Linked DNA regions of Homo sapiens. The protein of the gene in region 2 interacts with the protein of the main gene of each other region in a pairwise test. Each region holds a gene or a part of one and is shown on either strand. Other genes may lie near its edges.

Region 1 (7,090 bases), on a different chromosome or scaffold from region 2:
GACCTTATAGATGAAGTGTCTGAAATATCTTAAGATCAGGTCCGAGGGCTACAAGTTTATTTCTCAGCAACAGCCTCAGCATAGCAATTGATTCTGTATTGGTGAGTAATGAAGATGCCTATGATGTGTCTTCCTCAATAAAACTAAGAGCAAGGAACCAACTATGCAATATATTTGTCTTTCCAGGACCTATACTAATGCCTAGCACCTAGTAAGATGCCAAGTAACTATTTGTTCTTCTTGGCAGAACAACATTCACTGTTTCCTTTGCAAACAAACCCTGATTTTTGTAAAAGAACCTACCTCTACCTCTCAGGGAAGATGTGTCTATCCTTGATCTAAGGGAAACATCATAATCCAGCCTGCCTGCCAGGAATTGGTTTAGACTTCTGGAGGATCTTTGAGAATAGTTTCTTCATCTTGAAAGAAGAAACACTCTCTTTTTCCACTGGACACTGTCTATAACTGTAACTGCAATGTGTTATTATGCATACACATTATCTTGACTGCCTAGTTAAATAATCAGAGCTAAACAAAAATTTTCGAAGAAATTAACAGTAAATGGTTAATAGGCAACGCCTCTTGGGCTCGCTAGCAGACACAAAATAGCAAAATGGTTTAAACAAAAACAAACCGAAGGATAAGACCTCTATATACATTTGATAAAATAAATTAAAATGGGGAAAATATGATCTTGTGCCAATTAAAAACGTCAGTCTGGGGATAAAAATAACTGAAGATAGTAGGTCAGAAAGATAAGAAGAACAGGGTCTTTCTTTGATGATAGTATACAGTTGCTAAATTAACCCTGGGACTTCTTACCTTTAGACATTTTGTTACATAAGATAATAAGTGCCATTATTATTTAAGCCCAGTGAGTATGTGGTGTTTTGGGGGTGGGGAAGAGTGATGGTTATTTGCCGTTATTTGGAGCTGGAAACATGCTAACTGATAAATTATCCTTTTGGTTTATAGGACAATGTCCTTGATGCCCAAAAACATTTTCTAATTTTGACAGAAGAGAAAGGATGTCAGTAGGTGTTAACTAATGTGAAAAGAAGGTAGAATGGCTCATGTGTGTGATGGAGATGAGAACTGGGAATACAGAGAGATATCTGACCTGGTAGTAATTTTTTCTTGCATGACTACTACATTGATAAGCACTGTGCTAAAATTTTTCAATTAATTATTTCATGCAATCTTCAAACCAACTTTATGAAATATGTACTATTATTTTTCCTACTTAATAACAGAAAGTGAAGCTTAGCAAGATGAAGTGACTTGTCTAAAATCACTTACTCAAGCTAGTGTTTTTTGTTTGTTTGTTTTGTTTTGAGATGGAGTCTCACTCTGTCGCCCAGGTTGGAGTGCAGTGGCACGATCTCAGCTCACTGCAACCTCCGCCTCCTGGGTTCAAGCAATTCTCCTGCCTTGGCCTCCCGAGTAGCTGGGATTACAGGCACCCACCACCATGCCCGGCTAATTTTTTATTTTTAGTAGAGACAGGGTTTCACCATGTTGGTCAGGCTGGTCTCGAACTCCTGACCTCATGATCCACCTGCCTTGGCCTCCCAAAGTGCTGGGATTACAGGCGTGAGCCACCGTGCCTGGCCCCCAAGTGTTGTTACAAGGGTTTGAAACCAGATAGCGTGGATGTGTCGGGAGTCTATGCTAATGGTCACAAAGTTCATAGGCACCATAAAGTTCAAAGCAAACTAATTGCTAACAACCCCAGTTTTTCTGTTTGTTTTTGTTTGTTTGTTTGTGTTTTGAGACAGGGTCTTGCTCTGTCGTCCAGGCTGGAGTGCAGTGGCACAATCTCAGCTCACTGCAACCTCTGCTTCCTGGGCTCAAGCAGTCCTCCCACCTCAGCCTCCTGAGTAGCTCAGACCACAGGCGCATGCCTGGATAATTTTTGTATTTTTTGTAGAGAACAGGTTTCACCATGTTGCCCAGGCTGGTCTCGAACTCCTGGTCTCAAGCAATCTGTCCCCCTTGGCCTCCCAAAGTACTGGGATTACAGGTATGAACCACTGTGCCCAGCCCCAGTTATTCTTTACATTTAAGTCAAAAACGAAAACAAAAAATCACCCTTTCCCATGGATTCTCACAGAAAGATCACTACATAATATGAACAATATCCTCAGCAGACATCTTAAGCTGAAACTGTGTTGAGTTTTATCGGGATGCTTATTATTCAAAATGTCTCTTACTACAGAACTTGCTTTGACTGCATCCTCAGAGGCTGAAAATCTTTGACAGTTGAAAGAATGAAGGATGTGCCATCCCCAAATATGCCATATAATATATTGATTACTTTGAGTTGAAAACATTAGAGAAATTATAGTTTCAGAAAGGGTAAAACTGAGGGCTGACCTGATTAGGCCTGACACTTAATTTGCCTTGCTTGCTTTTGGTCACTTGCTTCTAGTCGATTTTAAAACCTGCATAGCTAAAAGTCATGTAGCTAGACGATACATAACTAAATTCCACTTGCCTCCTTATAGATAACTTCTCTGATAGGACACCATGGAAAATATTGCTTAAGTTATTTTTCAGGAACTTAGAGTCAGTTCTTGTCCAGTTCAAGCCACCAGCCCTTCATCTTGGCCTGCGTGAGTGTCCAATGGGTGACCTTTTGACATCAGAAGGCCCAAAACTCCACTCTCAGATCATGCTAACGTCACGATTTTGTGAACATGTGTTCTATGAACAGCCATGAAGATTGACTATGCTTGCTCAGATTACCGATTGCCTCACTTTTCCTTACCTCATCTTTCTCTGAACCTTGGACCACCTTCCTCCCCTATCCCATAAGCACTCCTAAAATTCCATCTTTGGAAAGGCACATTTGAGGCCTGTTCTCCAGTCTCCTGTCTTGGCTGCCTTGTGAATACACCCTTTCTCTACTGCAAAACTTGTGCGCCTCAGTGATTGGCATACTGTGTGAAAGACAAATGAGCCTGGTTCCCTGACAGGAGCTGAGCTGTCTCTTCCTGCATGCAGCCAGCAATAAAGATTCCTCTAGGAGAGGTATGTTCTCCACGCCAGAGCGAGAAAATAGCTCTCATCACCAGAGATTTGGAACTGGAGGTGGCATTTGGACTGGAGTAAACATTCTTGCAAAGTAACCATTATCTTCCACCTGTTTTACACCCCACCCCCCATATATCTCCTAGGGGCTCCCCTAGAAATTTTTTACCACCCTAGCCGGATTTTCTTTGTCCTGTCACTTCTTCTTAAATTTATCACTCTTTTTCTAAAAAGTATAAAAGCATCTTGCTTTGGACACTTTCTTCAGGATTCAGTCTCTTAACATCCCCATGTACATGTAAAATTAATAAAATTTGTATACTTTTCTCTTGTTAATCTGCCTAGTGTCAATTTGGCTTCTAGATGCAGCTGATTAGCTCACTAAGAGCTAGAGGGTGTAGGGGGTTGGAGGTGATCTCTGCCTCCCTTATTGGTGAACTTGATTTTTGTAAACACTCAAAAGTCACTTAGGCTAGAGTTGGAGATGGAGATGGTTATTCACTGGGAAGGCCACAAGAGAATGTTTTAAAGTGATGGAAATATTTCATATCTCGATTATGGTGTAAGGACATTTCATTATATATAAATTATATATCAATTTTTTAAAAAGCTCTCAGACCAAGGCTAGTCATTACAGCAAGAAAATAGGCATAGCAAATTTAAAACTTTGGAGAAATATATAGAATATTTGCATATGGTGATTCTGATTTGCTTTAAAAGTGACATGATTAATGTATTTAGACAAAAATACTCTTCGTTTTTCTTTGCTTTTATTTACGATCAGGATACAAGAATTCTACGCTGCTGCCAAATAAATGACTAGTTAAAATTAACTAACTGAATCCTTAACAACCATTCTAAGAGGCAGATATTATTATCCCACTTTATGCGTGAGGGCCCAGAACCCTGGCAAGGGCGGCACACTCAGTACGCTCTTCAAGCATCTGGGCACACCCGGTCCACTACAGTCCTACAAAGTCGGACGTGAGCACGGGCGAAGGCGTCAGCCGGGGCCACACGGGAGTCACTGACCACAGCCAGGCGAGAGCCGGCTTTCCGGTGCCGCCACATTCCGGGCACCAGGCTCCGGGCTCTTCAGAGCATTTGGGGCGGGCGACGGAGGTCCCGTCCACTCTCGCTTGGGTGCAGAAGGGCGCGGCGGTGCCAGGAAGCCGCCTTGGAGGCTCCAAGATTAGCTCACTCAGCGCGGCCAAGCGCAGGTGCGGGGGCCCTCGCCGCCACCCTGCTTATCTGGGGACAGTCCCGGAACCCGGTGACCCGGCTCCGCCCCAACCCGCGCCCTCGTCCACCCGCAGCAGCCAAGGCCTCTTCCCCGGCCCCGGGAGCCCGCGCCACGCCCGTCGCTCGCGCGTTCCAGTCCAGGCTACAGCAGGTATCGCGATCCCGGCCCTCGGCCCCGCGCTCCCCTCCCCCGCCCCTGGCGCTCTCCGAGTGTGGCCGACCATGAGGATTCCCAGTCTTGCAAATCGTGGGAGCGTGTCAACCGCCCCGTTTCTTTCCAAAGCCGGGCATGGCCCGGAAGCAGCTGATCAGATCTTAGTTCTGAATGTATAGTTCGGGTACGAGAATGTGACCCGTGAAAGTTCAGAGGAGTTAAGTAATTACAGCGTTCTGAAAGCGAACGTTAAAGGGAATTTACAACCGAAAAAAGATGCCGGTCTTCTTCCCCCATCCCAGCTTGCAATTCACAGAAGCACACATTAGGGTGGAGCCAGAAGGAATTACGGAAAGGACAATGAGGACATTGAGAGGGAGGGTATGGGGGGTTAAAGTTAGTCCTCCGAGGCCAAGAAGCAGAGTGTCTTGGCCTAGTGTCTGAAAATCGCAGCGCAGGACGGAACTTCCGAGAGCCTATACCTCCCCACTTCCCCCTCCAGTTTACAGATGGGCAAACCGCTGTCCCGGGTGTCTGTCAGGTCTAGTAGCCCAGAATCTCAGTGCCTAGGCTTCACTGTAAATAATAAACTATGTAAATAACATTTACAAATATCCTTTGTGAGCTCAGAAACTCAGCATTACCAGTAACTGGGTAGTGGAACGCATCCATCTTCGTCGTTTACTCCTTCTCCAGGGGCTCTCCAGCCTGCATTCCATGGCCAACAGCAGTGCAGCTGCAGAAGCACTTCTGGAAGCCTCCTGACTTGAACTAGACCTTGGGTAAATAGGGTTTAGATAAGTGGAGGGGAGGGAAAAGTTTCACCTGAGGGGAGAATGAGCTAGTCTGCCAGACCCTTATAAAAGTATTGGCCTGGATGGGATGGAGGGCTTTGACCTGAAAGCCACAGGGAGAAGGGAACCCTGAGGAATTGGCTGAAAGAGGGGGGTTCTTAGGAAATGCACCAACAGGGAAGCCAGCGCTTTACCAGGGATTTCATTCATGGTGGGTATATTATTAATAGAGATTCGAATTCTCTAGAAGCTGATCATTTCTAAGAGAAACAATATTTAAACATTACTGTCGAAGGAAAGGTTGTGGGGAGAAAATGTTCTAGTTCTAAAACAGAACACCCATTTTCCCTGGTTGTATATGAATAATACAAATATGTCAAAAATCAAGCTTACTATGTGCCAAGCACTCTAAGAACTTTTTTTTTTTTTTTTTTTTTGAGACAGAGTCTTGGTCTGTCGCCCAGGCTGGAGTGCAGTGGCACAATCTCGGCTCACTGCAACCTCTGCCTCCTGGGTTCAAGCGATTCTCCTGCCTCAGCCTCCTGAGTAGCTGGGACTACAGGCATGCACCACCATACCCGGCTAATTTTTGTATTTTTAGTAGAGATGGGGTTTCACCCTGTTGGCCAGGCTGGTCTCGATCTCCTGACCTCAGATGAGCCACCCACCTCGGCCTCCCAAAGTGCTGAGATTACAGGCGTGAGCCACCGCGTCCAGCCAACTTTATGAAATTTAATTTATTTATTCCTAACAACAAATCCAGGAGGTTGTTACTTTTTAAAATCAGTGCCATTTTATAAATGTGGAGGCTGAGGCACCAAGAGGTTGCCCAAGGTAAGAAGATCTGGACTGAGGCTGAGTGGTGTGATACCAAGCATCCTGGCTTGGCTGGAATCAGATTTGGGTTCCAGTACTTCCACTCCTCTTGTTTTGTGAATTTAGCTTATCTGAGCCTTCATTTTCTTATCTGTGAAATGCATACTGTAATCCCTCCCTATTAGTGAGACAATGAATGTGCAGGTGCTTTGTGAACTACACATTGTGACACTAATAGGAAGTGTAAAGCCTTGCACTTCTAAGGCCAAATCCCAGCTAAGAAGAGCAAATGATGAGCTGGGTTTGACTTGCAGAATTTAGTGGGCTTACTACTCACCAAGAGGCAAGAGATACAGTTGTAGTTATGATGATAGACTTTGGAGTCAGATGGACCTATGTTGGGATCCCAGCCCTGCCACTTATTGGCTCTGTGACCTGAGACAAGTCACTGAACATTTCTCAAACTGCATTATCTCCATGGTCCTCCATTTGTTCATACATAAAATGGGCTTTATATTCCTCATAGAGCAGTGATGAGGATTACATGAGATGCCACTGATACAATGTCTGCAAGTAGTGAGTGCTCAATAAAACATAGCTAGAGTCGTTGTTTTTTCTGATTCTTCTTGCTCCTCATCCTATTTCCTTTGTCTTAATTTCCCCACAAAGACACCCTCTCCAGAGCCCAGCAATTGTGAGGGACTGATGGAGAAGTATGTGGCTGCTATGGTGCTGAGTGCAGCTGGAGATGCCCTGGGGTACTACAATGGGAAGTGGGAGTTCCTCCAGGATGGGGAGAAGATACACCGGCAGTTGGCCCAGCTGGGCGGCTTGGATGCCCTAGACGTGGGAAGGTGGAGAGTTAGTGACGACACAGTGATGCACTTGGCCACAGCAGAAGCTCTTGTGGAAGCTGGGAAAGCCCCTAAGTTGACTCAACTGTATTACCTCCTTGCTAAGCATTACCAAGACTGCATGGAAGACATGGATGGGCGGGCACCAGGTGAGCACAGCCGGTGGGAGGTGCAAGGAGGGCAAAGAATAAAACAGC
Region 2 (7,025 bases):
TTCCCTGGCTAGGCCCTGGGGTGCCCTTGTGAAGGAATCACCCCACAGTGCTGCAGGCCCCTTTACCTGCCTGCCCTGCCCGGGGAAAACGCCCCACCCTCTTTCCCCAGCCTCCCTCCTCCCAGGCCCTCCCTCCCACAGACTCCCATCCCTCACAGCCATGTGGTCCAAGGCCTGGGCTGGGGTGAGGGGGTGGAGGGAAGGTGGGTGGAGGTGGAGGGGTTGTGGTTCAGGTTAGGTTTAGGGAGCTCAGCCCAGCATTGGTGTTAAGGACTTGCTAGGCCACCTGAGGTGCTGGCATCTCAGAACTAGGAGAGGTTGTGGAGCCGACCTGGACAGACAGACAGTGGATGTCCCACGTCAAGGTGAAGCCGTCCTTTCTGGTGGCTCTTTCTGGGACGGGGCTGGCCCAGCCTCTGGGGATCCCCCGCTCCCCACCATCCGGATAATGCCTGCTACAGCCCCACAAGGCTGTGTCTTAAGTGGAGACGATGCAGGGCCCTGTCTAAGCTCTGGCTGGCGGACCCCAGGCCAGCCTGTCCTTATAAATAAAGTTTTCTGGAACTCAGCCACGCGCGTTTATTTATGTCCCGTCTGTGGCTGCTTTTGTGCGACAACAGCAGAGACTGTCTGGCCCTCAAAGCCAGGCATTTACTATCGCGCCCATTTCAGAAAAAGCTGATCTCCGGTCTCGCTGAGACAGGCGTTCTGTGTGTTCAGTTCTGGGTTTATTAGCCTGAGAGCTCCCTCCTCCTCCCTCCTCTGCCTCCCCCTCCTTCCCCGTCCCTCCCTGTCTCACCCCACTTCACCCTTTCAGAGCAACCCTCTGAGGTGTTACTCTCCTCGCCTCTTCCCCCCTCAACCTCCCTGTTATGGTCCCTCCTGGCATTTTCAATTACCTGCTAGAGGACCTCTCCCCGCCACCTGTCTCTCCCACCCTCCCCTCCCTCCCCCAGCCTCCTCCTCACTCTTCCCACCTGCTCCCACACGTGGAGAGAGGGTGAATCTTCCATGACAGACGAGATCCCGGGAGAAAGGTCCTCCCTGCTGCCACAGTTGAGCGGCAGGGGGGCTGTGGAGGGGCTACGCTGCAGGAAGCGTGACATGAACTAACTCTCTTAGAAAGTAATTCCTGCCCCGTCCTCCCAGGGAGCTGACCTCTGTGCCCACAGGACCCTGCAAAATTGAGAATATGGAGAGGTTCCTGGGCACCAAGCTGGAGGGGGTGTCCAGACAGATGGGAGGGTGGTACTCTGCACCCCCGCTCCATGCAGCTCTGACCTCGAGAGCCGCCTCAGCCCGCCCGGCCCCTCGAGAGCCGCCTCGGCCCTCCCAGCCTTCCTACAGCTCAGAAAATGCTCCAGTGGAGGTTGGGGAAGAGGGGAATTCAGGGAAGGCCACACCCGCACCACACCAGACCCAGCTCTCTCCCCCTTCCCTCCCGCAGCTTGAGGCGCAGGCCCCAAAGCCACAGGGTGTCCCTCTGCAGCGCCATGGAGGGAGTCCTAGAGGTTTCAGTGGCTCCCAGGAGAGGAGATGGAACTAAAAGCTTGAAAATGGGATTTTCCTGGGAGATCATGGATGTGAGGTCACAGTATTCACAGAACTCTCTGGAACCAGGGCGGCCCTCTAGGCTGCAGAGGGGACACCTCAGCTCTGTAATGGCTTTGCAGACACTGGACACAAGGAGTCCTGCCCTGCTCTGAAGAGATGACCGTGCCCCTGAGATCAGAACCCTCTGTCTATGGCTGGGCGCAGTGGTTCCCACCTGTAATCCCAGCACTTGGCAGGCCGAGGTGGGTGAATCACCTGAGGTCAGGAGTTCGAGACCAGCCTGGACAACATGGTGAAACCCGGCCTCTACTAAATAGAAAAAATTAGCTGGGCGTGGTGGTGGGCGCCTGTAATCCCAGCTACTTGAGAGGCATAGGCAGGAGAATCGCTTGAACCCAGGAAGCGGAGGTTGCAGTGAGACGAGATAGCGCCATTGCACTCCAGCCTGGGCAACAAGAGCAAAACTCCATCTCAAAAAAAAAAAAAGGAACCCTGTGTCTCACATCAGAAAGGGGAGGGCGAGAAGCATGACCTGGCCCCTGAGATAAGGGGGTCGGGGCACCAAGTGTTCCCGCATGGGAAGGTTCTGCCAGGACCAAACTTCCTGGAGACCTGGCCGCCCCGGGAACAGGGTCTCGTGGGGCCTCTTCCCAGCTGAGAGGGAGCTCTAGGCCAGCCCCACTGCAGAGCCTGGCCCTGGCTGGCCCCATACTGAAGGGGGAGGCCAGCCCTCTGAGGTCCCTGGATTTCCGTGTGTCTGGGAGCCTGCAGCCTCCCCTACCCCGGGTTCCTTTGGGTTCTCTTTGTCTCCTTTACTCGGGCACCCTAGTAACAAGCGACCCAGCGTGACTCTCTCCCGGCAGCCAAGGCTCCAACAGCCTCCCGCCCAGGCGCCCCCACAGGCTCCTTTAGTTCCATTTCTTCAACGGGAGCCTGCCTTGCCCCTGGCCTAGTTGATCCTAGGAGCCTGACCCCAAACCAGGCTGCCCTCCTTGGCCTCTCTGGTCCCTTCCAGAGGCCAAGGAGGTTCTTGATGGCAGAAAGAAACTTCTCTCTTGAACGAGGCTCAAATCTTCTGCTGCCTTATCCTTCTCCTTGAATAGAACTCTTCCTGGCCAGCACTTTGGGAGGCCAAGCCGGGTGGATCACCTGAGGTCAGGAGTTCAAGACCAGCCTGGCCAACATGGTGAAACCCCGTCTCTACTAAAAATACAAAAATTAGCCAGGCATGGTGGTGGGTGCCTGTAATCGTAGCTGAGGCAGGAGAATCACCTGAACCCAGGAGGTGGAGGTTGCAGTGAGCCGAGATCACGCCACTGCACTCCAGCCTGGGCGACAGAGCAAGACTGCGTCTCAAAAAAAAAAAGAATTCTTCCTGGGCTACCAGTGGAGAGGGATCGGGTAGATGATGCAGTGAGATCTCTCCCCCAACCCAGAGTCCCTGTTCTCCCTCCTGAAGGACCCAGGGGATGGTGAGGCCAGAGAGGGAACGAGGCATCCTAGCATCGGACTTTCCTCCCCAGATGTGCTGTTGAGACCCAGAGGGCGAAACCCTGGCTTCTAGTTGAAGGGTGTGGGCAGGAAAAAGGTGGTTGGTCATCTAAGAAATCCCGGGGGTCGGGGGATGAGCCCCCCTTGCTGTCTGAATCGAGGCCTTCCCTTGAGAAGAATGTAGCTGGCGGAGGAGGCTCCTGGTGCCTTTCGTGCCAAGCGCACACAGACCCCTGAGTTGAGCTGTCCAGCTGCACCAGAAGGCCCTTTTCTGCAGTGAATTGGTGGTGCGTCTGCTGGAGGTAGCTGTGCCAGAGACAGGGAGGAGGAGCTGGGATTGGCATCCTCAGCAGCCTCTGCTGCTACCTGGGGCTCCACTTCCCCTCTGAACCGCAAGGCAAGGGCCATGCACCTCCCTCTGTTTTGACCAAGCAAATGCCCACTGTCATGGCTGAGTCCTGGTTCTGTGGCACCATGGCCTTCCGCCCTGTGGAACCCTGATGAGGTATTTGGTGGGCATCAGCCATGTGTCTGTACCCAACACAGATGAGGGTGATGCCCATCCCCCAAGCCCACCTCTCCACACAGTCGGCCGCGTGGACAGACAGACCCTTTCCTTTGTGACAGCTAGCCAGGGAACGGGGGATTTCATTCTGCGCCAAGGCTCCAGCCTGCCCGTGTCAGGCATGACAGAGCCCAGGTGCAGGCTGCTGGGACATGCTGATGTGGTCGCCTTGCCCTCCGGGTTAACTTTCCCCTTCATCCCACAGTCCTGCTCACCGGTTGTTTGTCTTTCCGTCCATTAGGCAATACTGAACACTGCGCAGCTTGCAGAGGTCTCCTGGCAGCCCTCATTAGGAATTCTGTCTGGCCCCGATCAGAATACTGGAGACGAGACCACGAGATTGATGAGTTTGCCTTGGGAGTCGGTAAGAAGGTGAAGCCAGGGGCGAACATGGGTCAGAAGGTCACTGGAGGGATCAAGACTGTGGACATGAGGGACCCCACGTACAGGCCCCTGAAGCAGGAGCTCCAGGGTCTGGATTACTGCAAGCCCACCCGGCTGGATCTGCTACTGGACATGCCCCCTGTGTCCTATGATGTCCAGCTGCTGCATTCATGGAACAACAACGACCGATCGCTCAATGTCTTTGTGAAGGAGGACGACAAGCTCATCTTTCACCGGCATCCGGTGGCCCAGAGCACGGACGCTATCAGGGGCAAAGTCGGGTATACCCGTGGGCTGCACGTGTGGCAGATCACGTGGGCCATGAGACAGCGGGGCACACACGCCGTGGTGGGGGTGGCGACGGCAGACGCCCCCCTGCACTCTGTCGGGTACACAACCCTCGTGGGGAATAACCACGAGTCCTGGGGCTGGGACTTGGGGCGCAACCGGCTCTACCACGATGGCAAGAACCAGCCAAGCAAAACATACCCAGCCTTTCTGGAACCAGATGAGACATTCATTGTCCCTGACTCCTTCCTGGTAGCCCTGGACATGGACGACGGGACTCTGAGCTTCATTGTGGATGGACAGTACATGGGAGTGGCTTTTCGGGGACTCAAGGGCAAAAAACTGTATCCTGTAGTGAGTGCCGTCTGGGGCCACTGTGAGATCCGAATGCGCTACTTGAACGGACTCGATCGTAAGTGTCTCCTCTGCTGTCAGAGGCAATGCCCTCCCTCAGTCCCCATGGTCCTGGCTGGGCTCAGGCCAAAAGTTGATTCATTGGAACTAGAGTGTTTTGAAGACGATATTCCAGTGTATTCAGACCCTCAGAGGCAACTTTTGCATCGGGTTAAGTGAGGAATTCTACCCAGAGTCAGCTAGATTACCTAACGGTGCCTCATGAATGAATGGACAGATGGATGGATGATGGATGATGAATGAATAGATGGATGAATGATTGGTTGGATGGATGGATGATGAATAGATGGATAGATGAGTGAATAATGGATGGATGCGTGTATAATGAATTGATGGATGAATGTTTGGATTGATAGATAAGTGGTTGAACAAACAGATGGATGGATGTGGGTGGATGGGTGGGTAGGGGGTGGATGAGTGTTTAGATTGATGGATGGATGAGTGGATGAACAAGTGGATGGATGAATGAGTGGATGGATAAATGAACGGATGGATGGGTGGGTGGATGGATGGATGGATGGATGAGTGGATGGATGGATGGATGAGTGGATGGATGGATGGGTGGATGGATGGGTGGATGGATGGGTGGATGGATGAGTGGATGGATGGATGGGTGGATGGATCAGTGAATGAATGGATGGATGGATGGATGGATAAATGAACAGGTGGATGAGTGGGTAGATGGATGGATGGATGGATGAGTGGGTGGATGGATCAGTGAATGGATGGATGAGTGGATGGATAAGCAGATAGACTAATGAATTGATGGATAAATGGATAGATGGATGAATTAATAAGTAGGTGGTCTTTGTTTCTCTGGGTGACCTGCCTCCAGGTTTGATCCTCAGTTGACCAAATTCTAGCCCAGTTGCCAGCATATCATCGAGCTGGGGTTTGTAACCTTGGGGATACTAGGGCCTCTCCGGTAAATGAATGCTAGTGACCTCTCTCACTCATTAGACAGGCTTAGAGTCTTTCTCTTCTGCCAGAGGCTTCTGAGTGGGCTCTGAGATACAGTCCTGAGGGACTTCTTCAGTCATGAAGTTGGGGAGGAGCATGCAGATCAGAAACAGACTGAGTCAACAGCGAACTCCACCTGTCCCTTTGGGAAGGGGAGTGGCCTTTCTCAGACTGTGAATGCAGCCCATGTGTAGGGGCACCGTGCTGGTGTGGGAGGTGAAGGCTCCATGGCTGCCCAGCTGGGAGTCCGTGGTAGCAGGAGGGCCTGGCGTTGCAGAACGGCTCACCCCGTGTACGGCCCTCTCTCAGAGTTCCTTGCCTGCATGAGTCCCTTCTACCGCCTGCAAGTCCCACGTTGGGAAGCAAGTGGGCTGGAAAGCTCCATCCACCCATGGGTTGACTGTCCTTAAAGGGCAGGTTCAGCTCAGCACCCTGAGCTCTAACCCCACCCTGCAGGCCAGGCAAGAGGCAGAGGGGGGTGAGGCCCCCCACCAGAGGTCAGGAATACAGATGCTGACTCTGTCTTGAAGTCTCCAAGCCTGCAGCTTCTCCTCCTGGAGAAGGAGGTCCTCCTCCTGCTCCTCCTCCCCCACGTCAGCCTTTGAAAGATACTGGGGAAAGTGTCGGGGTGGTTAGGCATGCGCAAACGCTTACACATTTCTCTTTGGAAGCCTCCCCGCCCCTCTTTCTCTTGGTCCTCTGCTGTGACTTTGACTGTGATGGCAGTGAGTTGACAGCCACACACGATGTCTGTGGTACAGGCTCCCAGGGCTGCTTGGTCCTCGTCTGTGCAGCCTGGCGCCCCCAGGTCATGGGACTCCTGGAAGAGGTGGGTGACCAGGCCTGCAGCCAGCAGGTAGCCTCCCCGGGGAAGTCACCTCGGAAATGGAACCAGCAGAGTGAGTTCTGTGTCTGTCTCCCTAGGTGTCAGAAATGAGTGGCACCACGTCCACAGCCAAATTTGCCTCAAACTGGGATGGCTGCAGATTGGGAGCCCTGGGCATATCCTGCCTAGGACCTAGAATCTTGAGGAGCCCTGACCCTCAGCCCTGCCTCCCTCCTCCCAGCCATGGGGTGGTCACGGAGCCAGGGAGGTTAATGTCCATTCTTTGCAGACAGACAGATGAGGGGACTGCCAGACCTGCTCTTGTTGCCTGCCCACTGAGACTGTGGGGCCCCATGAAGATTTCCAGCCCTGTGCCCTCCAGGAACATGCCCCCTGATGCTGTCATGAGCTCTGGGTTTGCACAGCTTCACGGTTATGTATCATAGCTCCAGTACAGTACACAGACCCCTGGAGTGGCTGGGAGGGGACTGGAGCCTATTTGAACAGAGGGTTCCGCCCACCCAGTCCTGGAGGTGCAGACAC

What was found.
Region 1: the proteins of SPSB1 (region 2) and ADPRH interact in binary tests that used the Homo sapiens proteins (3 or more experiments, as listed by UniProt).

What each region holds. Positions count from the first base shown.
Region 1 is NC_000003.12:119,575,426-119,582,515, forward strand, and holds the start of ADPRH (ADP-ribosylarginine hydrolase), read left to right. Parts: upstream 1-4,066; 5' UTR 4,067-4,426; exon of another isoform or gene 4,427-5,125; 5' UTR 5,126-5,211; intron 5,212-6,708; 5' UTR 6,709-6,744; coding exon 6,745-7,042; intron 7,043-7,090.
Region 2 is NC_000001.11:9,351,892-9,358,916, forward strand, and holds part of SPSB1 (SPRY domain-containing SOCS box protein 1), read left to right. Parts: intron 1-3,851; 5' UTR 3,852-4,000; coding exon 4,001-4,694; intron 4,695-7,025. UniProt on the Homo sapiens protein: Substrate recognition component of a SCF-like ECS (Elongin BC-CUL2/5-SOCS-box protein) E3 ubiquitin-protein ligase complex which mediates the ubiquitination and subsequent proteasomal degradation of target proteins.